Linked DNA regions of Homo sapiens: region 2 is linked to region 1. The links come from fine-mapping of genetic effects on gene expression. A gene starts in region 1. The other region holds a variant in brackets. All regions are shown on one strand. Distances are from middle to middle.

Region 1 (11,091 bases):
AATTAGCTGGGTGTGGTGGTGCATGCCTGTAGTCCCAGCTACTTGGGAGGCTAAGGCAGAATAATTGCTTGAACCTGGGAGAAGGAGGTTGCGGTGAGCCAAGATCTTGCCATTGCACTCCAGCCTGGACAACAAGAGCGAAATTCCATCTCCAAAAAGTAAAAATTTAAAAAAAAAAGAGGAAATTTCATAACATTACAGTCCTACCTTAAAAAAGTCTGAAAGAGCACAAATACACAATCTAAGGTCACACCTCAAGGAACTACAGCAACAAGAACAAACCAAACCAAACCCTAGCAGAAGAAAAGAAATAGCAACGATCTGAGGAGAACTAAATGAAATTGAAACAAAAAAATAAAAAAAGCTAAGGAAAAAGCTGGCTCTTTGAAAAGATAAACAAAATTGATAGATCATTAGTGAGGTTAACCAAGAAAAGAAGGAGAAAGTCCTAATAAGCTCAATTAGAAATGAAACAGGAGATACTACAACCGATAAAATAGAAATACAAAGAATCATTCAATGCTACTATGAACACCTTTACAAGCTAAACTAGAAAATCTAGAGGAGACAGATAAATTCCTGAAATAAGCAACCTTCCTAGATTAAACCAGGAAGAAATAGAAACTCTGAACAGACCAATAACAAGCAGTGAGATTCAAATGGTAATTTAAAAATTGCCAAACAAAAAAAAAAGTCCAGGACCAGAAGGATTCACAACTGAATTCTATCAGACATTCAAAGAAGAATTCTCAACAATTCTACTGAAATTATTCCAAAAGACAGAGAAAGAGGGAATCCTCCTTAAATAATTCCATAAAGCCAGTATCACCCTAATATCAAAACTAGGGAAGGACATAACAAAAAAAGAAAACTACAGACCAATGTCCCTGATGAATATAGATATAAAAATCCTCAACAAAATACTACCTAACCAAATCCAACAGCATAGCAAAAAGATAATCCCCCATGATCAAGTGGGTTTCACACCAGGGATACAGGGATGGTTTAACATCCACAAGTCAATAAATGTGATACACCACATAAACAGAATTTTTGTTAAAAAAATCACATTGTCATCTCAATAGACACAGAAAAAGCATTTGACAAAATCCAGCATCCCTTTATGATTAAAACCCTCAACAAAATCTACATAGAAAAAAACATACCTTAAGGTAATAAAAGCCATCTGTGACAAACCCACAGCCAACATTATATTGAAGGGGAAAAAGCTGAAAGCATTCCCCCTGAGCACTGGAACAATGTAAGGATGCCCACTTTCACCACTTCTATTCAACATAGTACTGGAAGTCCTAGCCAGAGCAATCAGACAAGAGAAAGAAATAAATGACATCCAAATTGGTAATGAGGAAGTCAAACTGTTGCTATTTGCTGATGATATGATTGTATACCTAGAACACCCTAAGCACTCACCCAAAAAGCTCCGAGATCTGATAAATGAATTCAGTAAAGTTTCAGGATACAAAATCAATGTACACAAATCAGTAACACTGCTAGACTCCAACAGCAACCAAGCTGAGAAACAAAGCAATAACTCAACCCCTTTTACAATAACTGCAAAAAATAAAATAAAATACTTAGGAATATACCTAACCAAGGAGGTGAAAGATCTCTGCAAGGAAAACTACAAAACATTGCTGAAAGAAATCATAGATGACACAAACAAATGGAAACATACCCCATACTCATGAATGAATAGAATCAATATTGTGAAAATGACCATACTGCCAAAAGCAATCTATAAATTCAATGCAATTCTCATCAAAATACCATTATCGTTCTTCACAGAACTAGAAAAAAAAAAAACCTTAAATTCATATGGAACAAAAGAGCCCACATAGCCAAACCAAGACTAAAGAAAAAGATCAAATCTGGAGGCATCACATTACCTGACTTCAAACTATACTACCAGGCTATCATCACCAAAACAGCATGGTACTGGTATAAAAATAGGCACACAGACCAATGGAAGAGACTAGCAATCCCAGAAATAAAGCCAAATACTTACACCCAACTGATCTTTGACAAAGCAAATGAGAACATAAAATAGGGAAAGGACACACTATTCAACAAGTGGTGCTGGGATAATTGGCTAGCCACATGTAGAAGAATAAATCTGCACCCTCATCTCTCACCTTATACAAAAATCAATTCAAGATGAATCAAATACTTAAATCTAAGACCTGAAATCATAAAAATTCTAAAAGATAACATTGGAAAAACTCTTCTAGACATTGGCTTAGGCAAAGAGTTCATGACCAACAACCTGAAAGCAAATGCAACAAAGATAAATAGAAGGACTTAATTAAACTAGAAAGCTTCTGCACAGCAAAAGAAATAATCAGCAGAGTAAACAGACAACCCACAGAGTGGGGGAAATTTTCACAAACTATGCATCCAACACAGGTCTAATATCCAGAATCTACAAGGAACTCAAACAAATCAGCAAGAAAAAAACAAATAATCCCATCAAAAAGTGGGCTAAGGACATAAATAACAATTCTCAAAAGAATATATACAAATGGCCAACAAACATATGAAAAAAATGCTCAACATCACTAGTGATAAGGGAAATGCAAATCAAAACCACAGTGCTGGCCAGACATCGTGGCTCACACCTGTAATCCCAGCACTTTGGGAGGCTGCGGCAGGTGGATCACCTGAGGTCAGGAGTTCAAGACCAACAGGGTGAAACCCACATCTCTACTAAAAACACAAAAATTGCCGGGCATGGTTGTACACTCCTGTAGTCCCAGCTACTTGGTACTTGGGAGGCTGAGGCAGGAGAATCACTTGAACTCCAAAGGCTGAGGCAGATGAATCACTTGAACCCAGGAGGTGGAGGTTGCAGTGAGCTGAGGTCGAGCCACTGCACTCCAGCCTGGGTGACAGAACAAGACTTTATCTCAAAAACAAACAAACAAAACAAACAACAACAACAAAAAACACCACACAATGTGATACCACCTAACTCCTGCAAGAATGGCCATAATTTAAAAATCAAAAAATAATAGATATTGGCATGAATTTGGTGAAAAGGAAACACTTTTACACTGCTGGTGGGAATGTAAACTAGTACGACCACTATGGAAAACAGTATGGAGATTCCTTAAAGAACTAAACGTAGATCTACCATTTGATCCAGCAATCCCACTACTGGGTATTTATCCAGAGGAAAAGAAAGCATTATATGAAAAAAAGACACTTGCACACATATGTTTATAGCAGCACAATTCACAATTGCAAAAATATGAAACCAGCCCAAATGCCCATCAATCAATGAGTGGATTTAAAAAGGAATGAAATAATGGCATTGGCAGCAACCTGGATGGAGTTGGAGATCATTATTCCAAGTGAAGTAACTCAGGAATGGAAAACCAAATATCATATGTTCTCATGTGTAAGTGGGAACTAAGCTATGAGGACTCAAAGGCTTAAGGATGATGCAATGGACTCTGGGGACTTGGGAGAAGGGTGGGAGTGGGGTAAGAGATAAAAGACTACACATTAGGTACGGTGTACACTGCTCAGGTGATGGGTGCTCCAAAATCTCAGAAATCACCACAAAAGAACTTATCTATGTAACCAAACACCACATGTTCCCCAGAAACTATTAAAACAAAAATCATCATAGTAATTTTTAAAATAATAAAAAATTTAAAAAGAAAGACACGAAGTAGTGTATACTGTATGATTTTTATGTGAAATTCCACAACAGACAAAACTAACATATACTGGCAGACAGCAAGTCAGTGGTTAACTGGAGCTGAGGATGAGAGGAACTGACTAAAATAGGGCATGAACATTTGTCAAAATTCATTGAACTGTGCACATAAAATGGGAGCATATCATTGGATATAAATTATAAGTCAACAAAGTTGATTTTTTTAATGAAAAAAGTTTTTAAAATAAAAATTCTTGGTCCCCATTCCTAGTGATTCCAATACAGCAGGACTGGTATTATGGGAGGAGACCACCCCTCATATTGCCTTATGCCCATTTTCTGCCTCCAAAGAAAGAAAAACTAAAAACTAAAAGGCAGAAATGAAATCCACAAGCAGACAGCCCGGCGCCACACCCTGGGCCTGGTAGTTAAAGATCGACCCCTGACCTAATCGGTTATGTTATCTATAGATTACAGACATTGTATAGAAAAGCACTGTGAAAAATCCCTATCCTGTTGTGTTCCGATCTAATTACCGGTGCATGCAGCCCCCAGTCACGTACCCCCTGCTTGCTTAATCGACCACGACCCTCTCACGCGCACCCCCTTAGAGTTGTGAACCCTTAAAAAGGACAGAAATTGCTCACTCGGGGAGCTCAGCTCTTGAGACAGGAGTCTTGCCGATGCCCCCAGCCAAATAAACCCCTTCCTTCTTTAACTCGGTGTCTGAGGAATTTTGTCTGCGGCTTGTCCTGCTACAATATAGGGCTCAGAAATCTGCATTTTCAACAATCCGCATGGATAATTATGCTGCAGGCTGTTTCACTTATCGTATTCGTCTCTAATTTGCTGTCCAAGCACCCAATTCTTGGACAGCAAATCAACTAGGCAAACAAAGAAAATTCAGAAAAAAGAGTTTGAGTTTTTGTGTGCCCTTGTTTCATCCCCCAACCTCCATTCTTTAGCTGGAATGCTGGTCACTACCAAAGCATCCTCCTGTGTGCTGTTTCCCCTAACCGTGAGCTCAGCTGTGGATAAGCTTCCTTTATTCATTCTTTACCAAAGAAAGTTTGCTAGGAAGATAAATGGGAGAAAAGCAAAATAAAAACACATCAGGAATGCAGATAAACCAATATATGTGCAGAGCACAAGTTCCTTCTCATAAGGTCATTCAAGTCTGGCACCACGTGGTGGTGGGGGGTGGGCCAGCTCACTGGGCACATGGTACCCATAAATATGCCTACCCTGGGGGAATGGAAGGTTGACAGGGAGCCTGATGGACATGTGTGTGAAGAACGGAACAACACAATAACAAACATGCGAAGCGTACTCATAGCCCTTCCTCCTTCCCATCCCATTCCTATAAAAGAGGAAAGAACAACTCATTTCCTTCACGGGGCATGGTGGTATGCATCTGTAGTCCCACCTACTCAGGAAGCTGAGGCTAGAGGATTCCTTGATCCCAGGAGGTCAAGGATGGAGTAAGCTATGATCCTGCCACTGCACTCCAGCCTCGGTGACAGACAAGACTTTAAAAAAAAAAAAAAGTAAAGGAAAAGAAAAGGAAAGGGATATTTCCCTGCCAAATTAATTTAAACCAAGTGCTCTATTTCCATTCATTAGTTTTTTCCCTGCTGCCTGATGTATCTTTCTCATATCTGGCCCCCTGTTCTGTCTACCTGTTGAAATATTTCCCATTCTTCGTGGCCCAACTTGAGTAACACCTCTGTCAGAACTTATCAGATCAACACAGTCAAATGAATCCTCTCCCTCCCCTGAACTCTATGGCACTTGGCTTGAAGAGCTCTTACAGAAATCTTGAGTTGTGTTTTACTTATTCATGTGCATGGCATATCTACTCTATGAGATTGGAATCAACTTGATTATAGAAATGATAACTTATTATCTATGCTAGATGTGGCTTGCATAGATTCTGTACATTACTTTGCACCTAGTGAGTGGTGATTATTGTAGACATGAATGAATGATTCAATCGGTGCTGATTAATGTCTCTGAGCTTTTGCTCATGCTGTCTTCCCTTTATGGAAAACCCTTCCCACACCAAGGGTCACTTCCTGTAAGAAGCCTCCCTGGATCTCCAAGCTGCTGGCTCCTATAGCACTCTGGGCAAACCTCTGCCTGATTACTCACCACCACTATCATACGTCAAAGTTAATCATGACCAATTTCACCCACTTATTTATAAGCTTCAAAAAGCCTAACATTCCATTCTAGTCATGCTTCTCTTACCACCATCTAGCACAGTGTTTGGTAATAGTGTGCATTTTATAACTGTTTGTCAAATAGAATGATCTATTCAGAAGCTTCTGGAAGCGTTAGCCCTTGCCACAGAGGACCTCGTTTATTTAGTGTTTCTATCAGGAACTGCCACAGTTGTCTTGAGGTCTCACTCCCAGAGGAAACCCAGCATGAACAGCCTTCCCATCCCAAGTTTCGTCACGGATGAAGGAAGGAGCAGGACCAGACGCTCTTTAGGGTCCCTTAGAGCCCCAGGATTCTTGTGTTCCAGGGAATCCCCTGGCAGAATAGATTGCTGCGAGCAAAAGAGGCGAGTGTGGCCCCTCCTCAGCAGGTCTCTAGATGAACCCCAGCCTCTGGAAGGCCTGGACCTGGGAAAAAAGAATTCGCGTCCCTTCAGGGCCCCACGCCTTCCTGTCCTCCAGCACATTTCTCTTTCTTGGCCCCACCTTCCCTTTTTCTGCTTCCTCTCTGCTGGCCTCTCCCCTTCTCTTCCTTTCTTTTCTGTTTCTCTTCTCCTACAGGTCCCACCGCACCTTCCCAGTATCGCTGCTTCCCCTTCGCCTACTTCCCAGTCTGGCCAGTCAGATTCACCGTCCTTCTCGGGTCGCCTGCGTTATCTTGCTTTCCTCCCACGCCCCGACAGAGGCTCCCTCTCGCTGGCCTCCTCCCTCTCCTCTCTGCCCTGCAGGCAGCAGAGCCTTCGCTGACGCCAAGAGGCAGCGAGGTGGGGAGGCGAGGAGTTGGGGAGGTCTGGAGGTAGGGGGTGGGGTGGGGGTGGGGCCTTGCGCAGCCGCCCCGCCCCGCGATGCGTGTGTGAAGGTCGGGGTGGCAGTGACGCGGCGCCGGCGGGGGGAGGGAGGCTGGGCCGGTGGGAGAGGGAGGCGAGCCGACCGCTGGGCTGCTGGGCTCCCGCGCCCTCGCGCTCCCCGCCGCCAGCCCAGGCGCAGGCAGGGCGCAGGCGGCGGCGGGCGGCATGGAGAGCCTGCTGGAGAATCCGGTGCGCGCCGTGCTCTACCTCAAGGAGCTCACGGCCATCGTGCAGAACCAGCAGAGCCTCATCCACACCCAGCGAGAGCGTATCGACGAGCTGGAGCGGCGGCTGGACGAGCTGAGCGCTGAGAACCGCAGCCTGTGGGAGCACCAGCAGCTGCTGCAAGCCCAGCCTCCGCCCGGGCTCGTCCCCCCGTCATCGGCCCCGCTGCCGGCCGCTCCGGCCACCGCTCCTGCCGCCGCCGCCAGGGCCCAGGAACCTCTCCAGGACCAGGGACAGCGCTCAGCAGCCGCGCCGCATCCCGCGCCCGATCGGCCGCCGCGTCAGCACCACGGACAGCTCCTGGAGCAGCCCCAGCGGGGCCCTGGCAGCAGGGCTCACACACCCCAGTCGCCCCACAAGCATCTGGGGACACAAGGGGCCGTGACTGACAAGGAGAAGGAGCGTCCCCCGAGTTGCTGCGCTGCTGCCGGAGCCCTCCTTCAGCACAAATCCCCCTCCGCCCTCGGCAAGGGCGTCCTGAGCAGGAGACCTGAGTGAGCGGGGAGAGGAGATGGGCACTGTTGTGGTGGGAGCAAGGGAAGCAAGTGGGTGTGAGGGAGAGACGGGGACGTTGGGTGCGTAGGAGTCTAAAGGACCGGAGTGATGTGGCCTGAAGGCGCCAGAAGTGTGCAAAGGAGATTTTGGGTAAATGAGGGAACGATATCCCTGCTTGAGAAGGTTTTGGGGAATGCTGGAGCAAAAAGGAGTAACCAGACCATTAGTAGGAGCAAAGGAGGAAGGAGGTGGGTGTTAAGCGATTGGTGATACTGGGAACTGACAGCATTTAAACGGGGTTAGGCTGGGTTGAAGTTCGAGTGAAGATTAAACTGTAGAAAAGAGAACCATTGAAGGAATCTTTTTAAGTGAGAAAAAATTTGGAAGGAAGTTTGGGTAGTAAAAGTATTTGCATGGAGACTGAGATGTGAGAAAAGCTGAAGGCTTGGAAAGAGGCATGTGAAGAGCTTTAAAAAGGCTGGGGCCCAGGAAGAGTAGGACTGGGGTAGAGGGGAATCCAGGAGGCCGGGGACAAACCTGAAAAGCAGGAGTGATGTGGGAAACCAAGGGAGCTGGAGGCAGAGGAAGAGAAAATGTGGCTCTTTAGCTGGTGAAGTGGGAGCCACAGCTAGGAGTGGCTCATTTAGGGAAGCTTTCTCTTCTCTGACCTGATTGGACACCCTTCCTCTGAATTCCCGCAGAGCCGAAGAGGTGCAAGGGAACATCCCATCAAACCAATGGAGGACTCAGGCATGGCTTGAGGACTCAGTCTGGTTACAGCTTTTTCCTCCAACTCAAGGAGGGTTTTTCATACAGGGTGTTTGGCCGTTGTTGAAAGGGAGCAATGACATGGGGGACAGTTGGCAGATGGAGTTGGTATTCAGATGCCATGCCTGTTTAAATCTCCCTGTTAAGGCCAGCAACTGCAAACCCTTTTTTCCCGGTTATCTGGTGATCACTGAAATCTTGCCTTGGGTCCTGAGAGAAATGTTAACCTCTCAGTTCCTAGAACTTCAAGCTCTTTCTTCACTCAGGAGGTCCATGAACTAGGAATATGGGAAGAAGATATGAAAGTGTCTGGGATGTTCTCTCCTCTGTACTGGAAAGGCTGTGGCCATGTCTGCTTCTTTTCTCTGATTAGGCAAGTGATGGAGAACTAAACAAAGAACAGTTCAAGGGAAATTGTCCCTGGTCAGCACCTGACCTTGACAATGGTGATGCATAAGGGAATGGGGAGGGGGAAGTAGAGCTGAGAATCTCATCTTCATCCAGGTGCATTAAGTCTGGGAGATACTTGTGAATATTTGCTGTATTCCTTCAAAACTCATTTTCTTTTACCATCTGTGGTAGAGTTAGAGAAGTTGGGTTAGGGCAGGGTAGCTCACAGAGCACGTTGATCAAAACCACAGGATCTAAGAGGTGAAGGTCTAACATGATCTGGCTTGGCAGACTTAAAACATTTGATTCAAGTCCCAAGAAGATACAGTTTTCTACCCCAACTCCCTCAAAACCCCTTTGTACTTCCCTCAGTTTCACATTTTTATTTTTATTTTTTCCTTATCTGGCATAAAAAGCAGAAAGTCAGTTTTCCCTCAATGCCCAAGGCTCAGCAAAAGGCAACATTGTTCCAAGATACTAAGTGGTCTTTTCCCCCACATGAGGGGATGAATTTTTCCAGTCCCCTTCCCTGAGGGCAGCCACAGCTACCTGGTCATTATGATTTCTCTCCTCATGACTTTTGGTGTCTCCTGTCTCTCCCACTGCAACTCCACTTTCTTTGCATCTCTTCAGGGCACTGTGTGGCCAAGAAGAGTTGAGGAAAGATTATTTTTCTTAGACAAAGACATAGCCATAGCCTTCAGAGTGGCCTACGGAACCCAAACCCTTTCACTCAGTTGGTCCTGCTCGGAATCCTGGGATTTAGGAATCATCTGGGCTCCTGTCCAGCTCCACATGTCAATTCTGGAGAGGAGTTATAATATCCTCACCTTTCCTTCTCACCTGTCCTGCTTTTGCTTCCCAAAGGAGCAGAACAAAAATAAAAAATAATTAGCATGGTGGAGCAGAGTGGAAGTTATTGGAATCTTTCACTTAGAAAGTTGCCCCAGGCACTTAACAGTAATGCCTTACTTTCTCCAGATTCTCCAGCTTTTTCTCCTGCTCCCCAATCCTGCACACTCAGAAACATAGAGACCATAGATGTGCCTGCCTCCCCTCATCCCTGCAGCTCTCCTTCCTTGGATGTGAAAACATGGTAATCTTGGCTGGTTGAATATCTTCTGGACCACTCATTTCTTTCCCCACAGTGGCCCAACTTCAACACCAATTTCCCCACAGAGCTCAGGACGGAATCACCATTGCTAATGACATGTTTCGTCCTACCCTGCTCTCTGCCCGTGGCCCGTTTTGTATGTTTGTTCTCCTCTGCCCATAGTTGTCTATGATGCAGGACAAGATGGAGCCAGCAGGCAGACAGAGATCTCCATGGAGAGGGAGAGGTGAGGAGGAGGAGAGCAGAGCCAGCAGCCCCCTCCCTGGTATTGCTCCTGGGGAGCTCCCCGCAGAACTGGTTCTCTACTGGGAGTGCTGAAGCGGGAGGAAGAGATGGCACAGTGGGTCTTCCAATCATGGGTTTCCTGTGAATCCTCCCTCATTCTTCCTCTGGCCTCCTTTCAGCAAGAACGCGACCCCACTGAGGTGGCTGAAGAGTGGGTGAGGGTTTCCAGAGGCCAGGCACTCTGGTAGATGCATTATGTCCTCACACAGTTTGACTTTTATCCCCAGAACTCCTCTTCCTACCCAATTCCAGGAGAGGCAGAAGCCCTAGATAACTGGGACTGGAAAATAATGAATCATTTAATTGCCATCTTATCTGCATTAATACATAATCTGGCCTCTCTCCCTCCTTCAGCTGAGGGAGACACAAAGGTGGTGGTCTTGGAGGTCAGTCCAAGAAAGCAGCAATATGTGGGTGAGTGAATGCAGAGATATTATGGAAGAAAAACATTTGAAGGGTTAAAATTATTTCTCTGCATGCTTCTTGATTCTTGCTAAGCTCTGACCCCCACTGCTTTTGCCTCTTAATGAAAGCAGCAAACATAGCTTCCTCCTCCTTATTTTTTCAATCAAGGCTCACGGCATCTACAGAATTTATTACTATCCCTTTCCTGGCTGGTGCCAGAACCTCAACTTGACCTGACAAATCCTCTTGCCATGGAAGCACATGAACTTATCTGAAGTGGCTGGCTTCAGTGGCTTCTAAGCACATTTGCCCAACCACCAGTCATGCGTTTAGTGTCCATGGATGACAGGGCTTGTCCATGTCTCCAAGGCCACAGGCAGATGATTGCTGGAGGATAAATTCTTGCATCCCCATTCAAATTCATCTCCTACTCCAAATCCCAACCTCAATATGACTATGAAGTCTGAAGGGCTCCACAGCTCCTGTCTTCTCTCTGTTACATTGCTTCTTCCTTTCACATCCCTCCTCTGCCTCACTACCCTTTTTCCTTCATTCTCTTCTCCCCTTCTACCTCTCCCCCAAACACTTTATCTCTCCCATCTTCTCTTCCTTCTATCCTTCTTCCACATAAGCTACACAGGGAAATCTCTTTCTTCT
Region 2 (11,091 bases), 75 kb after region 1:
TCTCTTATGGGTGCATGAGGTCATACCTAGTAAAGATCAAGTGGGGAAGTGTCCAGTTCGTACCGTGGGCAAAATTCTCAGATGGCCCCCAAGTCCCCTTCATGCTAGTGTACACATCCTATATAATCCCCTTCCCTTGAGTATGGGCAGGATGAGTGAATGTGATGGGACATCACTCCAATGATTAGGTTACCAATTGGTTGATTTTGAGTTAATAAAAAGAAACATCACCCAGGGTGGGTCTGAGCTAATCAGGTCAGCCCTATAAATGAAGCTGAAGCCCCAGACAGACACTGTGCCGTTAGCCTTGAAGGACCAAGCTATCAGGTTATGAAGCAGGCCACATGGTAGGGGACAGCAGGCAACCTCTAGTGACTGAGGGCCTAAGTCCTGTGATTACAAGGAATTGAATTGTGCCAACAAGAGCGAGCTCAAAGGAGGACCCCACACCTTAGATGATATTGCAGCCCTGACTGATATCTTGGTTTCAGCCTGGTGAGATCCCGAGCAGATAACCCAGATGAGCTGTGCCCAGACTAGATTCACAGAGCTGCATGAGAAATAAACAGGTGCTACTTTAAGTGGCTGGATTTGTGGTCATGTGTTACACAGCAATAGATGAGGAATACACTTGGTGTGGTTTAGAGCACCTTGAAGACCCCTCCAATAGGGGGATTGTGATAGCACTGGGAGCTTCCTCCTGCTCAGGGCCTTGTCCCTCATGAAATGCAAGTAACTTTGGGAGAAGCCATATAGGAAGGCTTAGTTGCCATTTACACATTAATCTGCGTGAGTTCCAACGATCTCCAAGGGTAGAGTTGGATGTTGGGGGAGACAGAATGATGTCCCCAGGTTTGGGAATGGGGAATGGGAATGGCCAGGCTGGAAGCACTGGAGGCAAGCACTAAGGATGTCTCATTTTATCTGGGATTGTCCTTGGGGATTGGGGTTGAATCCACAAGGTGTCCTGAGCTAAGAGGCTACCTCTGCTAGCGTGGAATGGGGCACCCATCACACCCTGCAGGGAGGGAGCAGAGGGCACGGCTGGGCTGTGGGAGGCAGGCATTCATTCTGGCTGCAGCCTTTGGGGGCTCCAGTGGAGCAGGAAGCAGGTTGAAGTGTTGTGCTGAGGGATGAAGTATGGCCTTTCTATCTGTACCCTCGCCATCCATGATCCCTGGAGAACAATCTGTACCCTCCCCACCCATGATCCCTGGAGAACACGGGACGTCCCTGTTCTTGCCTTGAGTCGTTCATCTCAGCGCACCCATCCCGATTCTTCGTTCATTCGGGAAGGACACCACGTGTAAGTGGCATGTCTGGTTGTGAATAGGAAACACTCGCACTTCCCAAACTTCTCTGAGGGCTGATCAGAGTCTAGGATGCCACCATTTAAGCCCATCACCTTCACACAGGCCTTGTCCCTTATTTAAAGGCAGAAGCCTCTGGGGGCATGGCTGTCATACCTCCCCAGTCCTTTCCTGAGAAGTTTCCATAGGGAGGAAAAGTGAGAGCGTAGCAACCTGAGAGGAGAAAACCCACGGACAGGAGGACAGAGCCGAGAGGAGGCACGCTGGCCCCCTGACAGAAGTTTTCCTGGGATCAGATCTGCCCAGGTGAGGTGCCATGCCCCCGAGCCCACCCCACCCAGCCCTGCCCTGGTTGGACAGCTCCCACCGTAAGAGCAGAGGTGACTCAAATTGGGGAACTCTTGGTAATGGTGGCCTGGAGGGACCCCCATTCTTGAGACACCCACTCAACTTTTTAGCAAATCCACGTTTACTGAGCAGCTAACTATGTACTGGGAACACACAGATGGTCCAACCCCAATCCCGACCCTTCTGATGTTCCCAGGGAAAGGAGCCACCCCAACACAGAGACATGGTTGCTGGGGAGGAGCAGGGAAGCACGAGGAGCTGTGAGGGTTTTTAGCATTTATGTTTTTCATTGTTTAGGGGAGGAGCGGGGAAGCACGAGGAGCTGTGAGGTTTTTTAGCATTTCTGTTTTTCATTGTTTATTGTTTTAAAGTGTGCACAAAAGTAGAAACGACAGTGTTATAAACTCCCCCGTAGCTATCATCCAGCTGTAACCATTTTATTAATATTTATTAACATTAATATTGTGTCATCTAACTCTTCCACATTTTTTGACAGAATATTTTAACACAACTTCAAGATATCATGCATTTTACCCATAAGTACTTCTGTATGCATCTCTGACATGAACTTAAAAAAAAAAAAAAAAAGAAGAAAAGAAAAGAAAAAAACAGAGACAAGGTCTCACTGTTTTGCCCAGGCTGGAGTGCTGTGGTACAATCATAGCTCACTGTAATCTCCAACTCCTTGGGCTCAAGCAGTCCTCCCACCTCAGCCTTCCCAGTAGCTGAGGACCACAGGCGTGCGCGCACCAGGACACCCAGTTAATTTTTTTTTTTTTTTCAAGAGAGAGACAAGGTCTAGCTATGTTGCCCAGCCTGGTCGCAAACTCCTGAGCTCAAGCAATCTTCTCTCCTTAGCCTCCCAAGATGCTAGGACTGCAGGCCTGAGCTAATGCGCCCGGCCATGAACATTTTGTAATACCCGCCACAGCATCGATATCTGAACGCCATATGCAGCACCTCCCTCCTGGCCCTTGAGACATCACTAGTCCCCAGAACGGACCCCTCCGTCCTACACCTCTAGGAGTCTTGCCACGTGGCCAGGACGTTCTAGGCGGTTCAGACTTTAGCTGCCCAGGAGCGCCCCCCCGCCCCCGTCCATTCCTGGGCCCCACCCGAGTGTGGCCGGGTGACTCCACCACTCCTCAGAAGGGCTGACCACCCTTCCCCTCTGAGCCCTTCCTCCTCTCTGTCCTCGTCCTTGCAGATTGAAATGCTAGAACATAAGTACGGCGGTCACCTGGTGTCCCGGCGCGCCGCTTGCACCATCCAAACCGCCTTCCGCCAATACCAGCTCAGCAAGAACTTCGAGAAAATCCGCAACTCGCTTCTGGAGAGCCGCCTGCCACGGCGGATCTCCCTGCGCAAGGTGCGGTCACCCACGGCCGAGAGCCTGGCGGCCGAGAAAGCGCTCATGGAGGGCTACGGCCTCGTGGGGCTGCCGCTGGTGCGCTCGCCCTCCCTGCCGCCCACCTTCGCAGGCACCCTCACCGAGCTGGAGGACTCCTTCACCGAGCAGGTGCAATCCCTGGCCAAGTCCATCGACGACGCGCTCAGCACGTGGAGCCTCAAGACCATGTGCTCCCTGCGGGAGAGTGGCGCTTACCAGCTCCACCAGGCCCTGCAGGCGGCCGCGGGGCCCCCAGGCCTGGAGGCCGAGGGGCGGGCGCCGGAGAGCGCGGGCCCCGGGCCCGGGGATGACGCCGCGGAGACCCCCGGCCTGCCCCCGGCCCACAGCGGGACCCTCATGATGGCTTTCCGGGACGTCACGGTGCAGATCGCCAACCAGAACATATCCGTCTCCTCCTCCACGGCTCTGTCGGTGGCCAACTGCCTGGGCGCTCAGACGGTCCAGGCCCCCGCAGAGCCCGCGGCGGGCAAGGCCGAGCAGGGCGAGACCTCTGGGCGGGAGGCCCCGGAAGCCCCCGCCGTGGGCCGGGAGGACGCGTCAGCCGAGGACTCATGCGCAGAGGCTGCGGCTAGTGGGGCGGCGGATGGGGCCACAGCCCCCAAAACAGAGGAGGAAGAGGAGGAGGAGGAGACGGCGGAGGTGGGGAGAGGGGCCGAGGCCGAGGCAGGCGACTTGGAGCAGCTGAGCAGCAGCAGCACGTCCACCAAGTCCGCCAAGTCAGGCTCGGAGGCGTCGGCCTCCGCCTCCAAGGACGCCCTGCAGGCCATGATCCTGAGCCTGCCGCGCTACCACTGCGAGAACCCAGCCAGCTGCAAGTCGCCCACGCTCTCCACCGACACCCTGCGCAAGCGGCTCTACCGCATCGGCCTCAACCTCTTCAACATGTAAGTCAGCCCCGGCCCCCAGCCCGGAGTCCTGGGCGTCCTGGGAGGGAGGGAAGGAGGAGGGCACCTTCCCTCCACCAAGCAGGGCGCCAGGTAACTTCCCACGTCATGCCAGGGTCCTCCAGGCAGGCGCATCTGTGCCGTGCCTGATCCCTGAGGTCATGTTTAGGAAGTACATATTTTATTTTAATCATCCTGAGTTTATTTTAAGAAAGATTAAAGGAAAAAAATAACACATCAGACACATGCTTTCACAACTGTTACAGCTTAAGATGAAGCTAGGGTTTGAAAAGTAAGAGAATGTAAAAGAAAAGACAGTATTAAGTAAATAACAGTCCAGGCCGTTTGAGGATTACGCAGCAATCATTCGGGTGGATATGAAGCCAGGGAAAACGCATTAGCTCCCAGGGTTGGTGAAATGCGAGGCTGGGTGGGGGAGGGAGGAGAGGCGCCTCGTAAAGAATGCCGGCTGAGAGCAGGAGAGGGGAGGGCTACGAGGAAGAGAGAGTGTGAAGCAGGCAGAGGCACAGGAGAAAGAGAACAGGGGAGAAATGACCGACCGCCATAGCTCAGAGACCCCAGCGAGACCGGGACTGGTCCTGCACCGAATGTATACAGCCAGTCCCAAGCAGAGGAAAGGAAGCACACCTGCCCCTCCCATGGAAATGTCAGGTCCAGGAGGCAGGCACTCGCCTCCATCCTCCACTCGCCCCTTCATAACCCTGCGCCAAGAGCACATCTCCCCGGCCCTAATGCGTGTTCATTC[G/A]TTCATTCGGCTGTTATTTATTGGGTGCCAGGCACTGTGACCACAGAGGTGAGAAGGACACATCCCCTGGCCTCAAGAGGCTCCTATTCTAGGGGAAGTAGCTACTGTTCATAGCTCACCTTACATAAAGCATCTGTAATCTTCCAGCAGTATCTACACAGAGGTATTACCATGCTGTTTTACAGAAAAGAAGCCGGCTCACACCAGTAAGGCGAAATGCACACGATGAAATAGCTAGTACTCGGCAGACCTAGGGAAAGGCGGATCTGACTCTGAACCACTCCCACTTCTGCAGTGTCTCTTCTGCATGCACATGAAAACTCATACAGACACTCATCTGCCCCAAGACAGGAATTCTTAAACTATCCATAGTGAAGAACCAGTTTTGTTCCCCCACACCCTTCTGAAAATACATTGTGGGCTAATACTTTTGTAAAATACAATAAAAATGAGGTGCTAGAAAGACAATCACATGCCTGGCTGTCCCGGAAAATGTCGAAATGCTATGGGAGGTTCTCAGTGCTTACCTTGTGTTTCTGTACTTATCTCCTCCCGGACCTGTGAGGAACAGCTCAGGGAGCAGCATGGCTTCAAAGCTTGCAAAGGGAAGAGGTGGTGTGGCGGAGGTCTCACCTCTGTTTCTCCCACCCTCTCTCCAGGGTTGGGGCGTCTGCGGTGGGGACCTGCATATTGACAACAGGATATGGGTAGGGGGAAGGGCAGGACTGGGGTAAGACCCAGGAGGCAGGGACAGAGAAGGGTACTTCTCCTCCATCTGCTCTGGAATTCACTTTGTTTGCAGATCTCCCCTGTCCTCCTTCTGGTCACACACCATCCTCTGCGTGAGGACATTCAGTGGGTTGAGGCTCTGGTGAGAGAAGCTTCAATGGGGAACTGGATTTCCAAGAACCTCTGGGTACTTCTATGGGTGGAAGACAGGGAGGAAAGAGTCATGGATGGCTTCAGCTCACTCTCTACTGCTTCTCCCCACCCCCACCTCCAGAAACCCCGACAAGGGCATCCAGTTCCTGATCTCACGCGGCTTCATCCCGGACACCCCCATCGGTGTGGCCCATTTCCTCCTCCAGCGAAAGGGCCTCAGCCGCCAGATGATTGGAGAGTTCCTGGGCAACAGCAAGAAGCAGTTCAACCGCGACGTGCTGGAGTGAGTACCCCACACTCCGGGCTTTCCCCACTCCTTCCCACACCCCACCTGCCCGGGCTCTCTCTGTGAGCTCCTTGGTGAAATCCTCGCTCCAGTTCTAACAGCTTCCAGCTTCCAGATTGTCCACAGGAACCAGAATCCCCTCTTTAGCCCATCACCCCAGTGGGCCGGAGCCCTGTCTCCCGTCAGAGTCATTGATTGAGTTCGCCCCAGGCCAGGCTTCGTTTGAGGCAGCAGGGATACAGAAATGGTCCAAAGAGACAAAAAGCCCTTTCTGCCTGTCACTCTCCAGGGCAAGAGAAACCAGGAAAAGGAAAGGGCTTGTGTCAGCACTGGGGTTCATCTCTGCCTGGTGAAGAGCCCCTCAGCCCCCCTCCCCCAGGACCCTCCCATTCTCCAAGGTTCATTTTCATATCGCTGGAGGCAAAAATGTGAGACAGAAAAAAGAAGGGGTTAAACTGAGGGTTTTAGAGCAAGAAAATACTACAATTCCATAAAGATAAATCTACCAACAAAATCATGACCAAAGAAAAATTGTTTCTTTAAAACCAAAGAAAATGGTTTTAAAGTCCAGTAGCAGGGTGGGGACCCCCAGGGGGCTGCCTTTGCCCCCGCTCAGCCTTGATAGTGTGGACAGGCAAGAGTCTCTTCACACTCATGCCTTGTCCAGAATGGCAGGGCGGGGCTGGCGCTCCTCTGAGGCTGAGGGGCCTTGCAGCTACTCCTTCCCTGGGACATCGGCTTCAGCCCCTGCCATGCCCCCGTGCTCTTTCTGGCTTCCACTGGTCCCCGAGGTTGGCCTCCTTCTTGAAGGTCTCCATTCTTCAGGGACCCTCCCTCATTTCTCTCCCCTCTTTCTCCTTGGGGACAGTCAGCAGAAGTGTCTCCCCGGAGGCCCTGGGAAGAGCTCTCCCTTTCATCCTCGCTCCTGGAGCAGCAAGGGACTGCCAGAGAGGGTTTGGACGCTGGGGGAGTCATCCACCCAGTGGTCAGCTTCCCTGGAGTGGGAGCTTGGATATTTCACTTCTATTTATGGAGCTGTCTTGGTGCTGTGTGCCCATATTGAGAAGCCCCTGTCCTCTGGGCCTGCGTTTCCATGCCTGCAGAGTGGTGCTGGGTTGTGAGGGCTGGACCCATTGCCCTCTGAAATCCCTGTCACATTTCTAAATCCACTGACGCGGTGGTTTTCTGACTGAGTTCAATGAGTGAGGGCTGGGGTTCGCACAGGTACCTTGAAATCCCTGCACAGCCCTCAGCTGGGCAGAACTGAGTTCCTGTCCCTGACTCTTGGTGGCTTTTGACAATTTATCATCCCTCCTGGAGCTGCTGGTGGAGACGCTCTGTGGACCTCAAAGAGGAAAGAGAGACAATGCTAGGCAGCGCCTCCCTCTCACCTCCTTTCTCTTCTCCCTCCGGCTTCCCTTCCCTTCCCCAGCACTGCTGTGGGGGCCCATGGAGGTGCTACTGGGATCCAGGATACATCTAGGTTGCAGAAGGGGAGAGATGGCATTTCCTCACGCCCTTCCTTTTCTGTGTCCCCTAGTTGGCTCATCTCTCTGGCTTTCCTGCACTGTTGTCCCAGTCCATCCCTTCCCAAGCCAGGGTGAGGTGCTGGCCCCGTAGCCCCAGGCACCCCTGCTGTCTCTCTGCTCTGGGGGCAGGAGTGACTCTGCTTCACCCACAGGCCCTGACTGTTGTCTGTTTTCTTCTGTCTTTCCCAGTCTCCATGTGGCCTGCGCCCTAAATTCTAACCTGCAAGGCCCACATTGATCTGGAGTGCTGGGAACACAGCGTTTTCCTGCAGCCCAGGTGGTGCTGAGTCGCACAATGGAAACTAATTGCCCTCTTCCCTGGGAGGCTGCGTGTATGGGCTGTGGGCTGGAGGCTTGGAGCAGTGGCTGCAAGCCTGTGCTGAGGAGGGGAGCTGGGCTGGGGGCTGGGGGCTGGGCTAACCTTAGGTAGGGATCAGGCTTGGGATGGGTAGGGGCCAGACTCCCGCGTTGGTACACTCTTCCAGTGAGAAGAGGCAGCGTGGTGAGATAGGAGAAATAGCTGGACCCGGGCTCTGCTCCTCTGTGCTGTGTGGCTTTGGCAGGACACCTCTCTGGGCCTCGGTGTCCTCATCTGTAAAATGAGAGGGCTGGGCGATGTGATTGCAAAAGTTTCTCCAAGTCCTGAGAATCTACCACCTTTCCCATCTCTTAGTGCATTGGTAGCACTGCCCTAAACACTGGGGCATGATTTGTCATCCTGCCAGAGCAGCCCACAGGCCCCAGGGCCGTGCTGGGGTGCCAGAGTTCATGCAGGGCAGTGCTGGGGTGCCAGAGTTCATGCAGGGCAGTGCTGGGGTGCCAGCGTTCATGCAGGGCAGTGCTGGGGTGCCAGCGTTCATGCAGGGCAGTGCTGGGGTGCCAGGGTTCATGCAGGGCAGTGCTGGGGTGCCAGGGTTCATGGGGGAATGAGTTGGCCATTTGTTATTCATTCAACAAACATCGAGCACTTATTTATTGTGTGTTGAGAATGGGGCCACGCTGGGCACCCGTGTGTGTGTGTGTGTGTGTGTGTGTGTGTGTGTGTGTGTGAAGAGGCATGGCTCACAGTCTCAGGGAACGTACAGACCCAGGTGTGGATGGGGAGAGGTGAGAAGCAGGAGCATGGAAAGAGAGTGAGAAGAGCAAGGGGCCTCCAGCCGGAACCCTGGCTTGGGCAAGGTTGAGTGCAGAGCTAAGCCCTGATATGCCCTGGTGAAAGCCGCAATCCCTCATGCTTGATTGTGTAGCCCTGCAGGCCTGGCATGCTGACTCAGCGCCACAGAAAGGAGCCCCTCCCTGAAGTCCATAGGTCACTGACTGCCTTGCTTCTCTCCGAGGTGGAGAGGGCCCTGTCCTGCAAAGGGCAGGAGAAGATGGAGAAGCAGAAAGTGGCAGGCACTAGCAGGGGAGGGGGGCGCTGGAGTCTTTGCATTTCCCTTCCACTCTGACTGTGTCTTCCTTACTCCCGCCGGAGAAAACACACACACTAACCGAGTCGCCAGGTGCCATTTTGCCCAGGCCTGGAAGGCTTCACTGGGATTCTATACGGCTCCCCTGCCCCCGCCTGGTGACATTCAGCAAGCGGTATTCATTCTGTACAAAGCTGTTTGCCGAATAAAAGGATATAAATCACCCATCCCCTTGGAGACTAAAACAGCCCAAACCGCAGCACTCTCCCAAGAAGCAGCCGATGAGGAAGAGCCGATGAGAAAGCCTCTGAGAGGGGAAGGGTGTGCTTCCCAACCGTCAGGCCTGTGCGGAAAGGAAGAGGAGGGAGAGAGCAGCTGCCACCTCGGCTGCTGGTCTGTGTCTGAGCATCATGAATGCTGTGACATTTGCTTTCAGAATTCGGCCCTCAGCGCTCTTGGAAGCTGACATCTCCATCCTTTTGTATCTTATTTTCACAGAAGACACATTCCAAGAAGGAATGTATTCTTACCAGGCCTTATCAAATGACAATAATAGAAGGCATTCTGAGCTCAAAGAGCCACACCCATTCCAGTGTTTACCTGCAAAGGTTTCGCTTTTGGTTTTTTTGAGACAGAGTCTTGCTCTGTTGCCTGGAGTGCAGTGGTGCAACCATGGCTCACTGCAGCCTTAAATTCCCAGGCTCAAGAGAACCCCTCACCTCAGCCTCCTGAAGAGCTGAAACCACTGGCATGTGCCACCACACCTGGCTAATTGTTAAATATTTTTGTAGCGATGGGGGTCTCACTGTGTTGCCCAGCTGGTCTCAAACTCCTGGCCTCACACAGTGCTCCCACCTCAGCCTCCCAAAATGCTGGAATTACAGGCATGAATCACTAGGCCCAGCCTGTTTGTTTTTAGAGAAGAAATCAGCCTCAGTTTCCTCATTAGTAAAATGCTGGTAAGAGTACCTGTCTCATATGAATCAAACGTTTTCAATGTACATGAAGTGCCTGATGCTTAGTAAGTTATCTGTAAATGTTAGCTCTTTCTTTTCTTTTTCTATTAGAGACAGGATCTCTCTTTGTCACCAGGGCTACTGGGCAGTGGCATGATCAAAGCTCGCTGCAACTTGAACTCCCGGGCCCAAGTGCTCCTCCTACCTCGGCCTCCTGAGTAGCTGGGACTACAGGCTAAATGTTAGCTATTTCATTATTATCTTTTCTACTTAAAAGCACAGACATTAGAACCCTCCACTCCCCGCCATCCCATTCCCCGCGCACAAGGAAACCTCCTCAAACATGACTCAAACTCAGGTCTACTAGGCAGACAATGAGAACTTGCTGGAACTTGCTGGGCTTTGCTGGGAAGGGGGTCAGCTCAATCTGGGGAGCATCCTGCAGCCTGAGGAAGCCCGGTCCAGAAGCTGAGAGTCACGCGGTGGCAGGCCAGCGGCAGGAGCCAGACAGCAGCCAGAGCTAGGGCCCTCTAGGGCTGGAAGCCTCTCCCTCTCGGTTTTCACATGGCTGGGGAATTTGGCTCTGCTCTATTTCCTTTCTGAAATGTTCGCTTCAGCAGGTTTAAAGTCCAGCGGATGGGGAACGTTCCATGCTGGCTGTGAGCGGCCTCTTTCTGGCCTGGATGATTTTTTCTGGTGTGAATCCCATGCACGTGGAGAGCATTGGTGTCTACCATCTCCATGAAATGCAGGAAGGCAGCTTCTGGGTTGAGCTGCCGGAAGAAAGCTTCCTGGGTGTTCCTTCCCTCCACTGCGTCTGCTCCATCCTTTGTTAAATTCCAAGACATATCAGGGTTTGACGTTTGGGTCAGATTTCATTATTTTATTTCCATGGAAATATGTTGGCCAGAGTATAACAGATTTGTTCTTCTTAGAGGACGTTTAGAAATGAAGACAGATTGTCTGTCAAATTCAACAGTCTGGAAGGCTCTGGCCTTTCATTGCTAGGAAGAAATCATTTGAGAATGTCCTGCCCACATTGCTGTGTATAATCTCAGTTACCTTATTCCTGAGGAATTCCCATGAGGAAGGGGAGAGCAGGCTGGGGCCCAGGCAGACCTTATGTGTCCGGAGGAGATAAAAAGAGGCCCAGGCAGGGATTGTGGCTCACACCTGTGGTCGCAGCACTTTGGGAGGCCAAGGCATCAGAATCACTTGAACCTAGGAGGTTAGGGCTACTGTGAGCTCTTACGGCACCACTGCACTCCAGCCTGGGCAAAAGAGACCTCATCTCTACAAAAAAATTTTTT

What was found. PIP is the estimated chance that this variant, and not a neighbour inherited with it, causes the effect.
Region 2: its variant is fine-mapped to the expression of IQSEC3 in whole blood (INTERVAL, PIP above 0.99). The same link has a PIP of 0.9 or more in nucleus accumbens.

The regions. Positions count from the first base shown.
Region 1 is chr12:59,966-71,056 of GRCh38, forward strand. It overlaps IQSEC3 (IQ motif and Sec7 domain ArfGEF 3), which reads left to right and starts at 6,802. Exons shown (of 14, transcript NM_001170738.2): 1 at 6,802-7,471. The coding sequence starts at 6,918.
Region 2 is chr12:135,402-146,492 of GRCh38, forward strand. It overlaps IQSEC3 (IQ motif and Sec7 domain ArfGEF 3), which reads left to right. Exons shown (of 14, transcript NM_001170738.2): 4 at 2,866-3,953; 5 at 5,723-5,884. It overlaps IQSEC3-AS3 (IQSEC3 antisense RNA 3), which reads right to left. Exons shown (of 10, transcript NR_033859.2): 2 at 8,908-9,168; 3 at 7,838-8,008; 4 at 5,933-7,232; 5 at 5,511-5,843; 6 at 5,247-5,402; 7 at 4,839-4,969; 8 at 3,150-3,243; 9 at 2,899-3,051; 10 at 2,010-2,226. Among named protein-coding and RNA genes, the nearest start is that of IQSEC3-AS3, 8.2 kb to the right of the region's middle. RefSeq lists enhancers at 9,764-10,265, 10,266-10,765. The variant G/A (reference allele first, on the strand shown) is at 4,720.